3 linked regions of the Homo sapiens genome follow. The protein of the gene in region 3 interacts with the protein of the main gene of each other region in a biochemical or structural test. Each region holds a gene or a part of one and is shown on either strand. Other genes may lie near its edges.

Region 1 (3,735 bases), on a different chromosome or scaffold from region 3:
ACTGCAGAAGTGCAAAGGAAGAGATATTCAGATTCTGGGAGTGTTCGCCTATTCCCAGGTCCTACCATGTACTATGACTCTCTTGAGAAGACCTTACCATAGATGGCCTGAATGCCATCGATGTCATCTTGAGGGAGTGAGTAGTTGCTGGTTTCCCTGAAAGCATAGTTGGGATACATCAAGGCACCAGGGTCAGAGGAGTGAGCGAGCCCCAAAGAATGGCCAAATTCATGAGCAGCAACAAGAAACAAGTTGTAATCTGAAATGCAAACACGGGTGGTAAACAGCTCAGTGTGGATCCCAGGGTGGCAGAAACATGATCTCAAGGAATGCAACCTCCAAGTCAAAACTGCTCAGGGAAATAGCCCTTCCCATGGCTGTCTTTTTCATCTTTCTTTCAGATACCTGAGAAAGTGGACATTGAGAAGAATCAAGATAGTGGTCATAGATGGCGACTAGGTGAGTATGAACTTCTTATAAACTCTTAGAACCCAGAAAAGCTGCATTTATTCCAATTCTCACATTTTACAAATGTGCATCTGAGACTTGGAGAAGTAATGGCAGAGCCGTCATGACTTTGGGAACCCCTCTTCTCTTGCATTCCCACAATCACCATCTCCACTGTCCCAGACACTCAGCCTCACGAGTAGAGTCCCTGTGAGCAAGTAGTTAGAAGAGAAGCCAGCCCAGCAGTGGAGCAGCCTCAGATGGAGGGCTGGCTCATGTTGGCTCCCTCATCACCCACAGCTTAGCACCAGCTCTTCTCTGTTTCTGAGCTTTCTAAGATGCTCTAGGAATTCTCTACTGGAGAGAGACAAATCCTACCCTTATTGCTCTCTTTCTCCATGTTTTAACTTCCATGAGCATAGTGCCGTTCACAACTGGAGACTTAAAACCTTCCCAGGATCTCACTTCCTATCAAATAAAGCCCAACCTCTTTTGCCTGGCCTTCAAGACCTCCTCCACTTGGCTCCAGCAGATATTTGAGTGCTTGCCTTTTAACATGAATCCTTCAGTCCAGCCAGTCTACATGCTGCCTCACAAACACACTGATGCATTTTTGTATATGCCTACTTTTAAAAAAAGCCATAATTGTAGAGTACCTACAACATACTAGGCAATCTAATGTTATGCAATCCTCATAACATTTTTCTGAAGTTTTATTAACAATATTTTTATAGTAAAGTGACTGATGCCCATAGATTTTGAATAGCTGGTACTTGGTCCCTCAACTAGTAAGTGACAGATTGGGGTCAAACCCAGGTATAATGGCAAGATCCATGCTCTTACTGCAATGTTCAACTTCCTGTTGATAATTAGCCTGCTAAAATTCTACCCATGCTCTAAGAATTGTTTCTTATCATCACATCCTTTTAATTATGCATTCATGAGTGCATTTCAGAAAAATATCTTTGAATGCTTGGAATACCGTGAAAGGAACTGTGGGCAATTTGTTGTGGTTCTCTGCTCTACAGGGAGTGCATAGTCTAGAAGAGGAGAGATGTGTGCAAACAACTTGAAAGCACACAGTGAGTGATGACAGAGAAGGAGATACAAAAGCTGTCAGAATTCTGCAGAGGAAGTTCTCATTTCCAGGACAAGGCAAGACAGAAGGTGGCCTTTGACATACATAGCATGGCAAGATGAGAGAGATTTTAAAAGGTGGTGCGTGGGGCATGGGAAGAGTATTTCAGGGAGAGGAAGCAATTCAAGCAAATGTGAGGAAGATGAAAAGCATAGGGTGTGACCTAGAAACAGTGAATGTACAATGTGGGTGTTAGCCCGATGTGAATGGAATACGTGAAATAAGAAGACAAGCCAAGAAAGACAAGGATGAACAAGCACCAAGAGCCTTCAATACCAAGTGGAAGTATTTGGACCTTATTTGGTGCAGAATGTGTAAACATTGAAACTTTTAAGCATGAGAGTGATGTGATCCAAGATGGGCTTCCAAAAACAAACCCTGCTGCAATGGTAGGAAAAATTAGAGGGAGCACATACTGGAGATGGAGAGTCCAGTTAGGAATCTAGATCATTCGTTCAGGTAAGAGGTAATGATCATCCGAACTAGTGAGGAGGGCAACAGGGAATGGAGAGGAGCTGAGGGTTATTACCTATCTTTGGCTACACACAGCTCCTAGCATATGGACTTAGGTAGAATAGACCCTCGTAACATACCCATGTTGAGAAAATGGCAGGAGGAACAGGTGCCAAGCAAAGGTAAAAGGTGCCTTTCTGATTATTTTCTAAAAGTGCTCTCTGGCATATTGTTACCCCATATTTTGTGAAGTACCACATGGTCTGGGTATACCTGTCCTCAGCCTCATTTCTTCCCTTCAAGCAGCCCAGTCCTTCTTAATAGGAGCCTTCTCCTGAAAGGAGTGGCTTGCTGTACAGAAGCATACCACTGAAGAAGAGCTCCAAGGAGATGAACTAACTAGATGAGAGGGAAGGTGTCTGTTCTTTTCTCAATAGACTAATTTCTAATTATAGAAATTATAATTTCTAAATGAATTTCCAAAAAATGGAAAAATAGGCTAATTTCTAATTATAGAAATTATAATTTCTAAATGAATTTCCAAAAATGGAAAAATAGGCTCTTTTCAAACATCACTAAATTTGGGAATATTAAAATAAAGATATTCTAAAGCAGTATCTGTAAAGAACCAGATAGCAAATATTTTAGGCTTTGTAAGCCAAATGATCCATGTTGCAATTACTCAGCTTGCCATTGTAGAGTGAAAGCAGCCATTTATGATATAGAAACAAATAAATGTGGCCCTGTTTCAATAAAACTTTATTTATACAGACAGGGGTCAGGCAGGATTTGGCCGTAGTCTGTATTTTCTGATCTCTGACCTAAGAAGTAAGGTCAGTAATCAGATTCAGCATGTCTTTTTCTTTCTTTTTTTAAAAAAATCCCAAATTGACTTAGTATCATGAGGTAGCAAAAATTTCAAATGATCACTTTTTGTGAGTTTGAAATATTATGTTACCTTTATTGTGTGTGTGTGTGTGTGTGTATTCTAATCTGTAAAAGGTTAATTCAGAAGCTGTGTGTGGACATAATCTTGATTAACTTACTTGCGGAGGTGTTGGTCCATGTTTCTTCGGCATCAAAATGAGCATCTCCTCCAATACCTTGGCCTGGCTGAAAGGCATGAGCAAGGATTCCATTGGGTCCATCAAATGGAGAATTGTCACCGTGATCTGAAATAAGAACATTTGTATTAGATCCTTGCCAAGTTTCAGGTTAGCCAAAGAAAGCAAAACTGAGCATGACTGCTTTGTACCTACCTCTTTGGTAAAAAGCAATGTTGATATCTGCCTCTCCCTGTGAGATCCTGGTGAAGATGAGAGGTGATGCAACACTCCAGAGTTCAAAGGCATCCTTGATAGCTCTTTCTACCTCAGCCTCTGACAGCTGTGGGGTATAGTTTCGAATCCTTCAAAATGAGAGGATGTATGAAGAGTTAAATGTTATTTAGAACAGTAGTCCATCAACTGATGAGTTGTTCTGTTTTGAAGTGAGTTGCATCATGGTGTGCTACCACTGGAGAGGATAAGGAGGGAGTGCAGGTCTCAGGGTGGAGGACAGATGTGGGTTCTGAACAAGTTAATACATGTCTTTAAACCTCAGTTTCCTATTCATAAAATGAGGATACTAATATAGTATCCCTCTCATAGGGCTGCCGTGGGGATTAAATACATATAAAGCATTTAGTTCATTACTTG
Region 2 (3,106 bases), on a different chromosome or scaffold from region 3:
ATTTACCTCCAGCAATTCAGCTTGTTCTGTCTTGTGGCAACTCTCTCATGATGTACTTCTACCACAGGACAGAAGGAGTAGACTACTAGAGAAATTTCCACCAGCAATTAAATGTTCCAGTCTGAAAATGATATTTGTCACTTCTTCACTCAACCCTCTGGCTAGAAGTAGTCAGATGCCCCACTGCCCACCACCCAACTCTGCAAGGAGTTGGACTGTGGGAAAATGGAACCCTCCCATATGTTCAGAAGAGACAAAATGACATACACCTAGAACGCTCTACCATGATGTCACTGATTTTACCTAAAACCACTTTTGGAATCCATAAATGGGGCAAGGGAAATGGATTCCCCTCCCCCACCCCAGTTTATATGGTATAAATTCCATGTGAATAGAGAATAGTTGAGTTTTTTGTATATCCTCATTTCCCACATGAACATTTTTTATATTGTCTACTTCCCATTTCAAATTTGAAAAGCAGTCTCTGTAAGGGTGGCGTTGTCATCAGAAAGTAACAATAATAAATATAGAAAGTGTATAAAACAGTAGAAACAAGGTTGACTTTATTCCAAACATAAAACACTTATTTTGTGTTAGAAGAGTTATCCCTTGCCTATCCAGGGTGACACCAGTGACTGCACATGTGTTCTTGAGCTGCTTTTCCTCCGGCAAAGACTCATGTCTCCTGTCTCTTTCTGTCTTGAAAGGATATGTTTGTCACTGAAGCTGCTCTCTGGGATCAACGTCAGAGTTGCATACTCTGGAAAAGATCTTTGCAACTCTGGCCTATATGAATCCATAAGCCACAAACTTGACTTTTTGTACCCACCATTTGTGGAACTAAATTATATCAGTACAAAAAGGGCTACATTCTAAATAGTAAAAAAATATGCAAACTGAGGTATAAATAAGATTATATTCTGTGTATCAGTGACTCTAGAGGTTAAAAATGACTGAGAAAATAGACAGTTCTTCAGGAAAACACCTTCTTTGGACTCACACCATGTGTTTTCCATTCAAATTAGTAATGTTCAATTTTTCCTGCAGTTGAACCAGCTATTAGCTTTCTGGAGAGTCAAAATTCTCTTCGTTTTAGGATCAAATTTGTATTGTCTTGTTCCATGAAAGAAATAGAAAAATCCTAGAAACAAAACAAAAGAGACTTACTACATTATACAAGTAGTTTCTAGGTTTAACTTGAATTCTTGAGAAACCAATTCATCTGTGAGCACAGATATTTTTGGCATTTGCTGTTCCAACTAACAATAATGATGTTATTGCTACGGCAATGAAATGGAGGAAATACATGTATATTCACTTACCATCTTTCATGAAAACTGCATCAACTTTGTGGCCAATTCCAGGAAAGTCATGTGCTATCATTTTGGGATAACCTGGATCCATAGATCGTTTATATTCATCATACCTGGTCAGAAAAGAGTTAAGAGTGTCAGACCTTTTGCTAAACATGTGCACTCTGAAAATCATTACAGAAAATACACAATGAGGAATTTAACCAGAATATTTCATTTTATAGATCATTTGTGAAATGGGGAGTGGATGGGATAAGGTGGAATGTTGGGTGAACTAAAAGGCCTTTAAGGCCCCTCTGAAATCCAGCATCGAATTCTCCAGTAGGTTCTACGCTATGTCCTATCGAGGTAACATACTATGGAAGATAAGTAACTTTTGGCCAAAGTAGCTCCGTTAAGATGAATGTCCTCAATTCTACATCCTTTTAAAATTCATCCCCCTACATTCTCTGGATTCCCAGTGCAGGCATTGTGTGATGATTATTGGTCAATAGACTAAATAGATGATAGATTGGCACCAGCCATCTGAAGGAAAGGATGCCGGCCAAGGCAGTTTGAGACTCACTTTGAAATGGGCTATTCTAGAACTTTTTATGTAGAAAGAACTGAGGCCCTAACATTCTCTGCACTTAAACTTACCTCCAGTATTTGTTAGCAACAAAGAAGTAGGTTTTTCCAGTGTTTTCCTCAGAAAGAGCAGCATCGATATGCTTCACAGTTCTAGGGAAGCCAAAGGAGCTGTAGATGTCCTTGGGGTATCCGTGTAGCACATTCTGTCCCTGAACAGCCCAGTACTTATTCCCTGCCAATCAAGAAAGAGTGATAAAACACTTGCCTAAGACTTCAATAGGCAGTAAGTGAATTTTCAGCTAAGTTCTTAGTTTCACATGCTAGTGCAGTACCCTGGCTGCAGATTAGAATCATCTAGGGAGATTTTTGAAAATACTGATGCCAGGACCCTATCCCAGACCAATTAAATGTGTCTATCTTTGGAAGCTTCTTAGTTGATTCTAATCTGCAGCAAGCTTTGAGAATGACTTGTTTATGGAGTTGGGGGCTTCTTTCCACAGTCAGATGTTCAAATGACTAAAGAGTTAGTTATGCCACCTTGGTGATATAAACTTCGGTTCTCCAGGTTTGCTCATGGACTGTGGAAGTTCAAACCATTTGTATCATAAAGGGTGAAGTGCTGTAGTGACTCATAACCTGTAAGGGTTTGCAATCCTGGATTCAAATCACTGCATTTGACTAGAAGATAGTTCCAAATACTTGAATTAATGCTGTGTCCAGATTCCGTGTTTATACTCAGTAAGCCCCTCATCACATAAAGCTGGTCTCATATACTAAAGCCAAGATTTCTGTTACTGTACACACGTGCTATTTACCCCTCATGAAAAAGGAATTTGAAACTTTCTGTCTCTAACATCCATTTAATTTCATAATTTAAAGGCTAAAAATCCTGTTTCAAAGCGTTTGGCCCATCTGACCTGCATTTAATTCTTTGCCTTGAGTGTATGGCTGAGTCAAATGTCTTACTCATTGTACTACGTTAAACACACGTTTGCAAAAATATTGGTGCGTGGCATAGTGTCTCGAGTTTTACTTTGAGTACTCCCAGGAATATGGAGGGGGTTTTAAATACATAGTTTGTGCAGAAAATATTTTTGTAAATCTAGATTCATTAAAAAGGCCAGAACGTTCTATCTCCAGTCATTTGCCTTTTGTTTAAAATGACTCCAAAATGCGCTACGCACCGTTTAGTTAAGTTGATGGACTTTCATTGATTTGGTTGG
Region 3 (3,500 bases):
ACGGGCGTACTGCCAGGAGCGGGGTGCAGAGATTGCCACCACGGGCCAACTGTATGCAGCCTGGGATGGTGGCCTGGACCACTGCAGCCCAGGGTGGCTAGCTGATGGCAGTGTGCGCTACCCCATCGTCACACCCAGCCAGCGCTGTGGTGGGGGCTTGCCTGGTGTCAAGACTCTCTTCCTCTTCCCCAACCAGACTGGCTTCCCCAATAAGCACAGCCGCTTCAACGTCTACTGCTTCCGAGGTGAGCCCACCTCCCTGCAGAAGCTGAGACCAATCTCAGAAAGGCAGAGTTGAGTCCTAAAAGTCCTACCCCAGTCTGATCAGTTTAGCTCAGGGCTTTGCCATTTGCCTGAAGTGGTCGTGGGTGAAGTCCAGCTTGTCATCTAGGGTTCTAATTCTGGGCATGCCCTCTGGTGTGGTGTCTGTCAGCTGTTTGGCCCAAGGAGTAGTCACCTTTTGGCCTCTCCTTATCTGCCTTCCCACCAGTAGTCCATGCCTTGTTTGCTCCAGCTGGGCTGCTGAATAAGCTCCCATCTCCTGTCAGCTTATTGGCAGAGCAAAGACGACCAACATTCTGTGAATTCAATGAGTAATCTGCCCAAGTTCTTCCAGTCAACAACCAAATGCCCTCAGGAGCCCTCTGGAGGATTTCCAGAAACTACAGCTTAAGAAGGTGTCAGATCTTTAACTACCAAATACTGGTGGATGGATACAATTCCCCCAAAAGGGAGCAAGACCTTAAGTACAGTTGGGAATAGAGATAGCTTTCTGCCCACATCTTATGGCTTGTTTCTTTTTTTGAGACAGGGTCTCACTCCGTCCCCCAGGCTGGAGTGCAGTGGTGTGATCATGGTTCATTGTAGCCTCAACCTCCCTGGGCTCAGGGGATCCTTCCACTTCAACCTCCGGAGTAGGTGGGACCACAGGCTTATGCCACCATGTCTAGCAAATTTTTGTAATTTTTGTAGAGATGGGGTTTCACCACATGCCCAGGCTGGTCTTGAACTCCTGAGCTCAAGCAATCTACCTATCTTGGACTCCCGAAGTGCTGGGATTTATAGGTGTGAGCCACTGCACCCAAACCTGCCCATATCTTATGTTGGGAGCTGGAGCGGGAGGCAGTTTCTGGGACTCTCAGATGCAAAAGGCCCAGGCCAAGGGTGACCGACAATAAGAGAGGCATTGCCATGCGGTGTCTCGGTCCTTCCCCAGTTTTAAGCCTGAAATACTGTTACAAGAGCTGGAAGCAGAAATGGAAGGAGCAGACACAGCCTTGAACCTCAGGGAGCACTTGGTCTGAAGGATGAAGACACAGCTTTTGCCATGGGAACCCCCAGCAAAGGGAAGACAAGATGCCTCACTCCCAGGATGAGGAGAGACTGAGAGAAAAGCATTACTTCCATTTGGACAGATCTGTGGACATATTTGGCTGGGGTTGGGGAGGGGTGGGGAAGTAAAAGTCCATAGGAAGACAGGTCCATCTGAAAAGACCTCCTGGAACAGGGGTAGTAGTAGTAGTAGTAGTAGTAGTAATAATAATAATAGTAATAGCTAAAACTTCTGTGTGCTGGCTATGATTGTGTGCCAAGCCAAGCACTGTTTTGGAAAGAAATGGCCTGGATCATGAGGAGGGGCAGGGGAGGGGGAATATGACTACAGTTGGGACTACGATTGGTGGAGGACACAGGCAGCAAGGACACAAGGTCTGGTGAGGAGTAAGGCTCACTGGAGCAGGTGATGAGGGCAGGGACTCACTGTCCTGTCTTGCCTGGCTGAGCACAGACAGCCCTCAGGACTTTTCTTAGCCCAATTCCACCTTCACTTCATTGGTTTTCTGCTCTTGGCTCCCTTCCCCAGAGGACAAGTAAACCATTCTAAACTTCTGGTTATTTGAAAGGAGTAGGTCCCAGAAGGAGGTGGCCTTTTCCCTTGCCTACTTGCCCCACCACTGAGATCCTCAGGTGATGCCTGAAGTTATTCCTGCACTCTGCCCTCCAGCTATCCTGAGGGGATGACAGCCTCTCCCCTTCTATTTCAAGAATTTTGGAGGCTCGGTGCAGTGGCTCATGCCTGTAATCCCAGCACTTTGGGAGGCCAAGACCACTTGAGGCCAGGAGTTCGAGATCAGCCTGGCAAACACGGGGAAACCCTGTCTCTACTAAAAATACAAAAATTAGCCAGTTACGGTGGCACATGCCTGTAGTCCCAGCTACTTGGGAGGCTGAGACGGGAGAACCGCTTGAATCCAGGAGGCGAAGGTTGCAATGAGCTGGGATCGTGCCACTGCACTCCAGCCTGGGTGACAGAAGGAGACTCTGTCTAAAAAATAAAAGAATTTGGGGATACCTGGGACACCTCACACCTTGCCCCAAGCCCAAGATCACAAGGTGGTAAAGCTATTTCATCCATCCTGCTGGCTCCAGCCCCTCCCCCTAGGGAATATCTCTCACCTGAGCCTTTCCTGACCACTCCAAAGTAGTATTTTCCATCACTCCATCTTCTAACTCTGCTCAAGTGTTCTTTATCTTGTAAGATTATAATATATGTTTGTTTGTCATCTGTTCTAGAATATAATTTCCCTTGAGGGTAGGAGGTTTGCTATTTTGTTCTGCACTGTATCCTCAGTGCCCAGGGGAATGCTTGGCATGACACACTGTAGGCACTTGATGAATGCTTGAGAAATGAGTGACGAAGTTCTGGGATGCTCCCTGGGCCCCAGTAGGTGCTCCACAGGGAAGATGTGAGAGAATTGAGAGAATTCCATGGTGCAAGCTGTGACCTGGGAGGGCAGAGCTACCTATTCAGGCTCGCATCAATACTTTCCTCCTGCCACAGACTCGGCCCAGCCTTCTGCCATCCCTGAGGCCTCCAACCCAGCCTCCAACCCAGCCTCTGATGGACTAGAGGCTATCGTCACAGTGACAGAGACCCTGGAGGAACTGCAGCTGCCTCAGGAAGCCACAGAGAGTGAATCCCGTGGGGCCATCTACTCCATCCCCATCATGGAGGACGGAGGAGGTGGAAGCTCCACTCCAGAAGACCCAGCAGAGGCCCCTAGGACGCTCCTAGGTAAGTCGGATCCCTTATCCTAAGGATGTCTTGATTGAAAGAAGTTGGGGGCAGAAGAGGCAAGCCCAGGTTGATGCTAGGGTGATGGATGACATGACTCTGCCCTGTCCTTTCTCAGTAGCTCAGGGGTGCAGGGCACCTTTCCTGTCCCTCTCCCAACCTTTGCTTTTCCAGTAAATTCCACCCCCAACTCTATGGAGCTAGAGATGCTTGCACTAAGGAGCTGCGCCCTGGAAAGGTGGAACCTGCCTTCTTTGGTCCCTCTTCCGCCTCACACACCCAAAACAGACTAGAGTTTTGACAGAGTAGGAGGGAGACAAATGACCATGTTCTCCGGGGCTAATGATGGCTCACAGAGCCTTCTCAAGTGTTGCCTCAACAATATGGCTGGGGTCAAGTTCTTCCAGTGTGGCGCAAGGACCACCTG

What was found.
Region 1: of the proteins of BCAN (region 3) and MMP8, one has a biochemical effect on the other in vitro, tested with the Homo sapiens proteins (one study listed by BioGRID).
Region 2: of the proteins of BCAN (region 3) and MMP1, one has a biochemical effect on the other in vitro, tested with the Homo sapiens proteins (one study listed by BioGRID).

Annotation. Positions count from the first base shown.
Region 1 is NC_000011.10:102,718,317-102,722,051, forward strand, and holds part of MMP8 (neutrophil collagenase isoform 1 preproprotein), read right to left. Parts: intron 3,447-3,735; coding exon 3,298-3,446; intron 3,211-3,297; coding exon 3,085-3,210; intron 260-3,084; coding exon 98-259; intron 1-97. UniProt on the Homo sapiens protein: Can degrade fibrillar type I, II, and III collagens.
Region 2 is NC_000011.10:102,789,381-102,792,486, forward strand, and holds the end of MMP1 (interstitial collagenase isoform 1 preproprotein), read right to left. Parts: intron 2,116-3,106; coding exon 1,953-2,115; intron 1,427-1,952; coding exon 1,323-1,426; intron 1,142-1,322; coding exon 1,032-1,141; 3' UTR 539-1,031; downstream 1-538. UniProt on the Homo sapiens protein: Cleaves collagens of types I, II, and III at one site in the helical domain. Also cleaves collagens of types VII and X.
Region 3 is NC_000001.11:156,648,617-156,652,116, forward strand, and holds part of BCAN (brevican core protein isoform 1 precursor), read left to right. Parts: coding exon 1-245; intron 246-2,839; coding exon 2,840-3,073; intron 3,074-3,500. UniProt on the Homo sapiens protein: May play a role in the terminally differentiating and the adult nervous system during postnatal development. Could stabilize interactions between hyaluronan (HA) and brain proteoglycans.